Regions from separate parts of the Homo sapiens genome. Here regions 2 and 3 are each linked to region 1. The links come from fine-mapping of genetic effects on gene expression. A gene starts in region 1. Each other region holds a variant in brackets. All regions are shown on one strand. Distances are between the middles of the regions. Region 1 holds the start of ARL5B (ARF like GTPase 5B). Region 2 has its middle 24 kb from the start of ARL5B. Region 3 overlaps SLC39A12 (solute carrier family 39 member 12).

Region 1 (2,761 bases):
TAAGAAACCATTCTGTTCAAAGGACGCCTCAAACTTTAACTTATCGTCGGCCCCTTTTTTGGTCTGGGTGTTTTCTCTCTTCAGAAGACATCACATCTCATTCTGATTCAGAACAGGTTTTGCAACTTCTCGGCCCTTTGGACCTGCCACTTCCAGGTGTCTCATTACCTGTTACAGACTAATTACGGACACGTAACGTCTTACACAAAACCGAAAAGCATTTAGTTTCTGAACTAAATGCTTTAAAAAAAAAAGTTTACAATGAAGATGCTGGAAAACTCGTGCATCTGAATAGGACAACTCATTCCCAAGTCCTAGAGGAAAGGAGGCGAAATCAGAGTGAAAGTGCACTGGCTTACGGCTCAAACTGCAGGGCGGGAAAACAAAGCACCTACATTACTCAAAAAAAAAAAAGTTCTAGGTTTCTGGGCGGACACTTATCCTGGGGATACACATAGACACAAGCACGCTTCAATAAAGACGAGAAAGGCCCTCCATACGCCTCCTGGCATCATTAGCTGTATCCCGCTTTACTTCGCCAATATCCAAACATTCTCAGTTTGGATTCTGGGACGCCAAATACCTTCTCTTCTGCCTCCCTATTTCTCCCACACGTCAGGTCTCTCCTGTACGTCCTCCAGGTCTAAAACACTGAGTTTCTGCCCGCCCCCTGGCCTAAGTCCCTTCCTCCTCCGCGTCTCCGAACGCTCTGTCCCCTGTCTCCGGTGTCCCCATCGGCGGCGGGACCCTCTGCCTCGGATTCGAGCCGCCGCGCAGCTCCATTCTTCTCACCTTGGTTACAGAAGAGGCTCCACAGTTTGGCGAAGATCAGCCCCATCACGAGCACCGGGGCGGGCCGCGGGGTCCCTCGGCAGCAGGTGCCGCTGCGCCGGGTCCCCCACCGCGGCGCGGGCTGCGCGGAGCCGAGGAGAACCCGCCTGAGATCGCGCAGCGAGGGCACTGCTAGGCCGAGAAGCCTCGACCCGACCACTCAGAAGGCGCCGCGACGAATCCCCACCGGACAGCCCTTTGTTTCGAGCCCACTGAGCCCAACGCCGACCCGTAGTCCCCTCGGTCTGTACCCACCTACCTACCACAGCCTCTCCACAGCCCCAAGCCCCGCCTCCACCCCGCCTCCCCTCCGGATCCCAGGACCACCCATCGCCGGAAGCTAGGCGCGTGACGACGGCGCACTTACGGCAACCCACGCCTTCGACGTGGCGTTTTCTTCGGTTTCACTTCCGGTAGGAGAGTCCCAAACGGCCAGCGGCTGGGAATTTGCGGTATCGCGGGGGGGTGGGAAATTTCCCTTGGTGCGTGCTCCTTCTGATGTCAGCCTTCAAAACGTTTGTGGGACTCCCCTTTGATTTGAGTCTCTGCTGCTAGCAGCTGCTTCCCTGACCTCTAAAACCAGGAAAGACCATAGGTTCTCTAAGTGAGCAGCCGCCGTTTGCTGCTCTTAGAAAACTCACAGAAGTGAAGAGTGTTTCTTTCCTGACTTATTCCTGTTCCCCTAGGCAGGCGTGCTAGGGGTTAGGAGTTCTGCCGTGATTCTTCTTCATTCATTTATTAATCTATTCATTCACGTATTCATTCATTGGCTTATGCATTTATGTACTCATTGATTGATTGATCGATTGCAGACGAGGTCGGGCTGTGTTGCCCAGGGGGACTCAATTTCCTGGGCTCAAGCGATCTTCCTGCCTCGACTTCCCAAAGTGGTGGGATTGCAGGCTCAGCCACCGCGCCCGGCCCCTGTCGTGATTCTTAGTTCTGAAAAGAATTGATTGGGAGACGAGCCATGGAAGGCCTGGAGCCACAGAGTTCAGTTATGTGATTAATAATAACACATAATAATAACACATAGCACCCCTCTCCATTTTGCCAAGCATTAGGTATGTTCGTGGATCCCAGATCGAAGTCCACGCATAAGCCAATTCGCTGTGTAATTGTTTTCAATTCCACTTTCCATGGTTAGGTTCTAGCATTGAAAAGAAAAGCTTCACAGCCTGGCATGAAACGAAACTGAATGTCCTTGAAACCAGTTGACGGAGGAGCAAGCTTAAAATTTTTTTAGACTCTGACTTCAGTCAGATGGTTGGATTTTAACCTTGGCAACGTGGCCTTTTAACATGCCAAACTCTTGAGTTAACCTGTACAAGGAGAATGTATGACTTACGTCCTCCCAGTGCTATGGTTTAAAGACCCTTTAAGACTTAGATGCAGGATAATATGCTCCAACGTTACAACATTAAAGGCAAGTTTCAACCTCCTATGTAGAGGAAAAAGAATGTACTGACCCTATGCAAACTTAACTTTCATGACTATCAGTTGGACCATAAATGTGAATAATTTTGTGTTTGTGTAAGTAATGGCTTAAAAGGACATTTTTAGTCCTAGCTTCATTATCACAAAACAAACTTTAGATTCCGTAACAGCTTCTTCAATTGTTAGACATGGATGTAAACCACATTCTGCTTTTTTTTTTTTTTTCTGGCTTTCGGATTTCTAAGAAACCATTTCTGAAAAGAACAAAGCATTTTTGTATGAAGATGCAGACATTTGGCTGGGCGCTGGGGCTCATGCTTGTAATCCCAGCACTTTGGGAGGCTGAGGCGGGTGGATCACGAAGTCAAGAGATGGAGACCATCCTGGCCAACATGGTGAAACCCTGTCTCTACTAAAAATACAAAAATTAGCCGGGTGTGGTGGCACGCGCCTGTAATCCTAGCTACTCAGGAGGCTGAGGCAGGAGAATTGC
Region 2 (2,761 bases), 25 kb before region 1:
TTAGAATCGTGCAGCCTACAGCTGCATGACTCCTAAACAATAATTTCTAATCTTTTGGCTAATGTGTTAGTCCCACAAAGGAAGTCTAGTCACCAGCCAAGAAGGGGATTTGTCTTGGGAAAGGGCTATCGTTTTTGTTTCAAACTATAAACTGAGTTCCTCCCAAAGTTAGTTCAGCCAGCTCCCAGGAATGAACAAGGACAGCTTGGAGGTTAAAAGCTCTTAAAAGATGGAGTTGGTTGGGTCAGATCTCTTTCACTGTCTCAGTTATTATTTTGCAATGGTGGTTTCATGTATGCCACAGGCTCCAGGAAATAAAGGAGATGGATGGGAAATCAACGTCTCTTTTTCCCTATCAAATTTCTCCTTACCACAGTCATACATATAACTATCACTGGGGCATTCTGTGGGTTTGGGGGTAGAATCAGCCACAGCCCTAATCTCACCCTGGGAAACCCTCAGAGGTGGAACATGGTCTCAAGTACTTTTGAATGAGGGTGGTAACTACAACCACATGAAGCTGGCCATTTCCAGAGAGCAATACTGGATACAATAATAAGTGGTGGGGACATATGTTCAAGTTACTGATTTGTTAAATTGTGCACATTGTTTCATGCACGTCATGTAAGTTATAATTTTCTCAAAGGAAATTATAACTTTGACAAGGAAAGAAAAAACAGGTTTGAAAAGGAGCCACTGTTCTTGTTTGCATCCGTGTTTGCTTTTTGTTTTGTTTATAAGCAGAGGGAGTTAGAGTTCCTATTTAGCTCAGGCAGGCATATAGCTAAGAATTCCCTCAGAATGTGAAATCCTTCTCCAAGCCTTTTCTCTCCACCTCTTCTGAGCCACAGGGTCCCTGTTCTGAATACAAATTGCCGTTGCTAGCCAAGTGACTTCCATTATGCCTATGCATCCCCTGAACTTTGTTTTTGGGCAAAGCATATATGGAGGAAATTTTTTCATTTCCCTTTCATTCTGTCAGTAAGAGAAAACGAAGCCAGAGCTCAAGTTTCTTGAACCTTTCTCCCTGGTAGTGAACAGCTTTAGAACCACATGCATCTGGGCCGGGCGTGGTGGCTCACGCCTGTAATCCCAGCACTATGGGAGGCCGAGGCGGGCAGATCACCTGAGGTCAGTTTTTTGTAAAAGTACAAAAAAATTTCCCTGTAATTGGTGCATGCCTGTAATCCCAGCTACTTGGGAGGTTGAGGCATGAGAGTTGCTTGAACCCAGGAAGAAGAGGTTGCAGTGTTATTTTAAATTGAATATGAAAATACCATAATTCAGAACAGAGCCATAGATCAGATGATCCCTATCAAGTATGAAGTATCTTGATGTTGAGTCATATAGTGTCATCTGCCAAAATAAGGTGACTAATTTGAAAGAAGTGATAAAACAGCCAATCCCATTTTGGAAGACGTGCATTCATTGTTATTATCAAACT[G/C]AAACTACATTTGTTTCTGTTGCAGAATAATCCTCAAGTATAGCAACATCAAATCTCCAAGTCCTCACAAAAATGTCAGGTCAAAAATCTCAGATGTGAATTCAAATTTGCTGAGGAGTATACATATTTCTTAGTAGGAAGGGTTTTTTAAACAAAGAAAGGTTAAATCAAGAATCAGTGTATGAGCCGGGCACAGTGGCTCACGCCTGTAAACCCAGCACTTTGAGAGGTCGAAGCGGGCAGATGGCTTGAGCCCAAAAGTTCGAGACTAGCCTGGGGAACATGGCGGGACATCTCTACAAAAAGTACAAAAAAATTACGCGGGTGTAGTGGCACATGCCTGTGGTCCCAGCTACTCGGGAGGCTGAGATGGGAGGATCACTTGAGCCTGGGAGGCAAAGGTTGCAGTGAGCCAGTATCGCAAGTGGCCACCTGCCAGCATGTGAGGGTTTTGTTCAGGATGCTCTTTTAGCTCACATGCAGTAGAATTAATTCCCCAAGACATGTGAATGTGTTACCTTACCTGGCATAAGGGCCTCAAGATGGGAAGGTTATCCTGGATTATCAAGGAAAACCTAGTTAGAAACACTAGGGTCCTTAATATGAGAAAAGCATAGGATGATGAGAATGGGTAGATGTGTTGACAGAAGCCAGATGGTGGAGTGATGTGAGGAAGGGGCCATGAGCCGAGAAATGCACACAGCCTCTAAAAGCTGAAAAAGGTGAGGATGAGTTCTCTCCTGAACCTTGAGGAGAAACACAGCCCTGCTGGCACCTTAATTTTAGACTGTTTTAAATCACAAAATTGGGGATAATTAGTCAAAACCAGTGATTATCTGCGGATGGGGAGTGGAGCAGAAGGGAGGATTACAAAGCGACACTAGGAAACTTTTGGAGTGACAGGTATTTTCATTACCCAGATTGTGGTGAAGATTTTGCAAATGTATACACATCAAAGCTTTTCAAATTGTACACTTTAACCACGAACAGTTTAATGCATTCATTATACCTACAAAAATACCTACATAAAACATGCTTTAAAAAAGATACCAATCTTAAGTTTACTGATTAAAAAATAACAGGCAGAATGAAATCTTACTAGTTTCTGGTGTCTTTCAGAAGAAATCTGAGTGTTCCGTGTGTAGCAGAACTCTTAAGCCTAGGTACCTGAAATTCCTAACCTTCTACTCAAAATTCCTAACTCTGTAATTATGAGTCATTTTTCTACGTAGGCAACTTTTATCACATTCCCAAAGAGGTCTGTGAGCAAAAACGGTGGAGTTAAAACCACTTTAGAGGAATGTGAAGAATGAACAT
Region 3 (2,761 bases), 620 kb after region 1:
CTCCATCTCCTGACGGTGATCCGCCCACCTTGGCCTCCCAAAGTGCTGGGATTACAGGTGTGAGCCCCTGCACCTGGCCTAGCTGTGCCTTCTAGCAGCACTTCTTTCCTGCCAGGTCTTTCAGGTTGTCCTGGCTACAAAGTCTTATGCAATGCTTATTTTATTTGCCTTTCATTTACATCTATTTATCACGTCCTTTCTTACATATATATTTCCCCCCTTTTACTTCTCATAATCCTGCAAGTGATAAAACTATTCACTCCTTTCAGTTTTGAAGAAACATTAGCTCAGAGAGGATAACAGCTCACCCACAGTCACATTGTTGTGATGTCAGAAAGAGGACAAGAAACCAGGTCACCTCCTAACTGTAGTGAACATACAAAGAACTGCAAAGATCAATTCTCTATCTGAGATTCACTGTTTCTATCTGAAATTCATCCTTGTCTATTATGACCAAGGGCGAATTGGTCTAATTAGAAAAAAATGGAAAATATCAATGGTAGAAATGTCCTATTAAGCATAAAAATGTCACTGCACTTCATGAAAATTTGATAAAATACATGATGCAATCAATAATGAATTATCAATAATCAACACTTAATAAATCAATAAACAATAACAGCAAACACACCAACAGAAAATCAGGCAAAAGATACCAAACAGGTAATTCAAGAAGAGGAAAATCAAATGGTCCAAAAAATTTTGGAAAGAGGTATAATCTATAGCAATTTTTAGGCTGGGCATGGTGGCTCACACCTGTAATCCCAGCACTTTGGGAGGCCTAGGCTGGCAGATCACTTGAGGTCAAGAGTTCAAGACCAGCCTGGCCAATATGGTGAAACGCAGACTCTATTAAAAACACAAAAATTAGCCAGGCATGGTGGCGGGTGCCTGTCATCCCAGCTACTTGAAAGGCTGAGGCAAGAGAATCGTTTAAACCTGGGAGGCGGAGGTTGCAGTGAGTCGAGACTGTGCCACTGCACCGCAGGCTAGGCGACAAGAGTGAGATTCCATTAAAAAAAAAAATATATATATA[T/A]ATATATATATATATATATATATATATATATATATATAATTTTTAAAATGCTAACTGCAAGATGCCAATGATATAGTTATTAGGCTGCCTTTGTTGTAAAAGATATCACGGGGGAGGAGCCAAGATGGCCGAATAGGAACAGCTCCGGTCTACAGCTCCCAGCGTGAGCGACGCAGAAGACGGGTGATTTCTGCATTTCCACCTGAGGTACTGGGTTCATCTCACTAGGGAGTGCCGGACAGTGGGCGCAGGCCAGTGGGTGCGCGCACCGTGCGTGAGCCGAAGCAGGGCGAGGCATTGCCTCATCTGGGAAGCGCAAGGGGTCAGGGAGTTCCCTTTCCTAGTCAAAGAAAGGGGTGACGGACGCACCTGGAAAATCGGGTCACTCCCACCCGAATACTGCGCTTTTCAGACCGGCTTAAAAAAACGGCGCACCACGAGATTATATCCCACACCTGGCTCGGAGGGTCCTACGCCCACGGAGTCTCACTGATTACTGGCACAGCAGTCTGAGATCAAACTGCAAGGCGGCAGTGAGGCTGGGGGAGGGGCGCCCGCCATTGCCCAGGCTTGCTTAGGTAAACAAAGCAGCCCTGAAGCTGGAACTGGGTGGAACCCACCACAGCTCAAGGAGGCCTGCCTGCCACTGCAGGCTCCACCTCTGGGGGCAGGGCACAGACAAACAAAAAGACAGCAGTAACCTCTGCAGACTTAAATGTCCCTGCCTGACAGCTTTGAAGAGAGCAGTGGTTCTCCCAGCACGCAGCTGGAGATCTGAGAACCGGCAGACTGCCTCCTCAAGTGGGTCCCTGACCCCTGACCCCCGAGCAGCCTAACTGGGAGGCACCCCCCAGCAGGGGCACACTGACACCTCACACGGCAGGGTATTCCAACAGACCTGCAGCTGAGGGTCCTGTCTGTTAGACGGAAAACTAAAAAACAGAAAGGACATCCACACCGAAAACCCATCTGTACATCACCATCATCAAAGACCAAAAGTAGATAAAACCACAAAGATGGGGAAAAAACAGAACAGAAAAACTGGAAACTCTAAAACGCAGAGCATCTCTCCTCCTCCAGCGGAACGCAGTTCCTCACCAGCAACGGAACAAAGCTGGATGGAGAATGACTTTGACGAGCTGAGAGAAGAAGGCTTCAGATGATCAAATTACTCTGAGCTATGGGAGGACATTCAAAGCAAAGGCAAAGAAGTTGAAAACTTTGAAAAAAATTTAGAAGAATGTAAAACTAGAATAACCAATACAGAGAAGTGCTTAAAGGAGCTGATGGAGCTGAAAACCAAGGCTCGAGAACTACGTGAAGAATGCAGAAGCCTCAGGAGCCAATGCGATCAACTGGAAGAAAGGGTATCAGCGATGGAAGATGAAATGAATGAAATGAAGCGAGAAGGGAAGTTTAGAGAAAAAAGAATAAAAAGAAATGAGCAAAGCCTCCAAGAAATATGGGACTATGTGAAAAGACCAAATCTATGTCTGATTGGTGTACCTGAAAGTGATGGGGAGAATGGAACCAAGTTGGAAAACACTCTGCAGGATATTATCCAGGAGAACTTCCCCAATCTAGCAAGGCAGGCCAACATTCAGATTCAGGAAACACAGAGAACGCCACAAAGATACTCCTCGAGAAGAGCAACTCCAAGACACATAATTGTCAGATTCACCAAAGTTGAAATGAAGGAAAAAATGTTAAGGGCAGCCAGAGAGA

The links.
Region 2: its variant is fine-mapped to the expression of ARL5B in whole blood (TOPMed, PIP above 0.99).
Region 3: its variant is fine-mapped to the expression of ARL5B in monocytes (Quach 2016, PIP 0.95).

The regions. Positions count from the first base shown.
Region 1 is chr10:18,657,715-18,660,475 of GRCh38, reverse strand. It overlaps ARL5B (ARF like GTPase 5B), which reads right to left and starts at 1,045. Exons shown (of 6, transcript NM_178815.5): 1 at 793-1,045. The coding sequence starts at 838. It also overlaps a transcript of NSUN6 not described here. RefSeq lists a silencer at 877-956 and enhancers at 1,267-1,396, 2,097-2,216.
Region 2 is chr10:18,682,229-18,684,989 of GRCh38, reverse strand. No RefSeq gene overlaps it. Among named protein-coding and RNA genes, the nearest start is that of ARL5B, 24 kb to the right of the region's middle. The variant G/C (reference allele first, on the strand shown) is at 1,445.
Region 3 is chr10:18,035,060-18,037,820 of GRCh38, reverse strand. The region is part of intron 12 of SLC39A12 (solute carrier family 39 member 12); the gene reads right to left. Among named protein-coding and RNA genes, the nearest start is that of SLC39A12-AS1, 26 kb to the right of the region's middle. RefSeq lists enhancers at 832-1,420, 1,421-2,010. The variant T/A (reference allele first, on the strand shown) is at 1,037.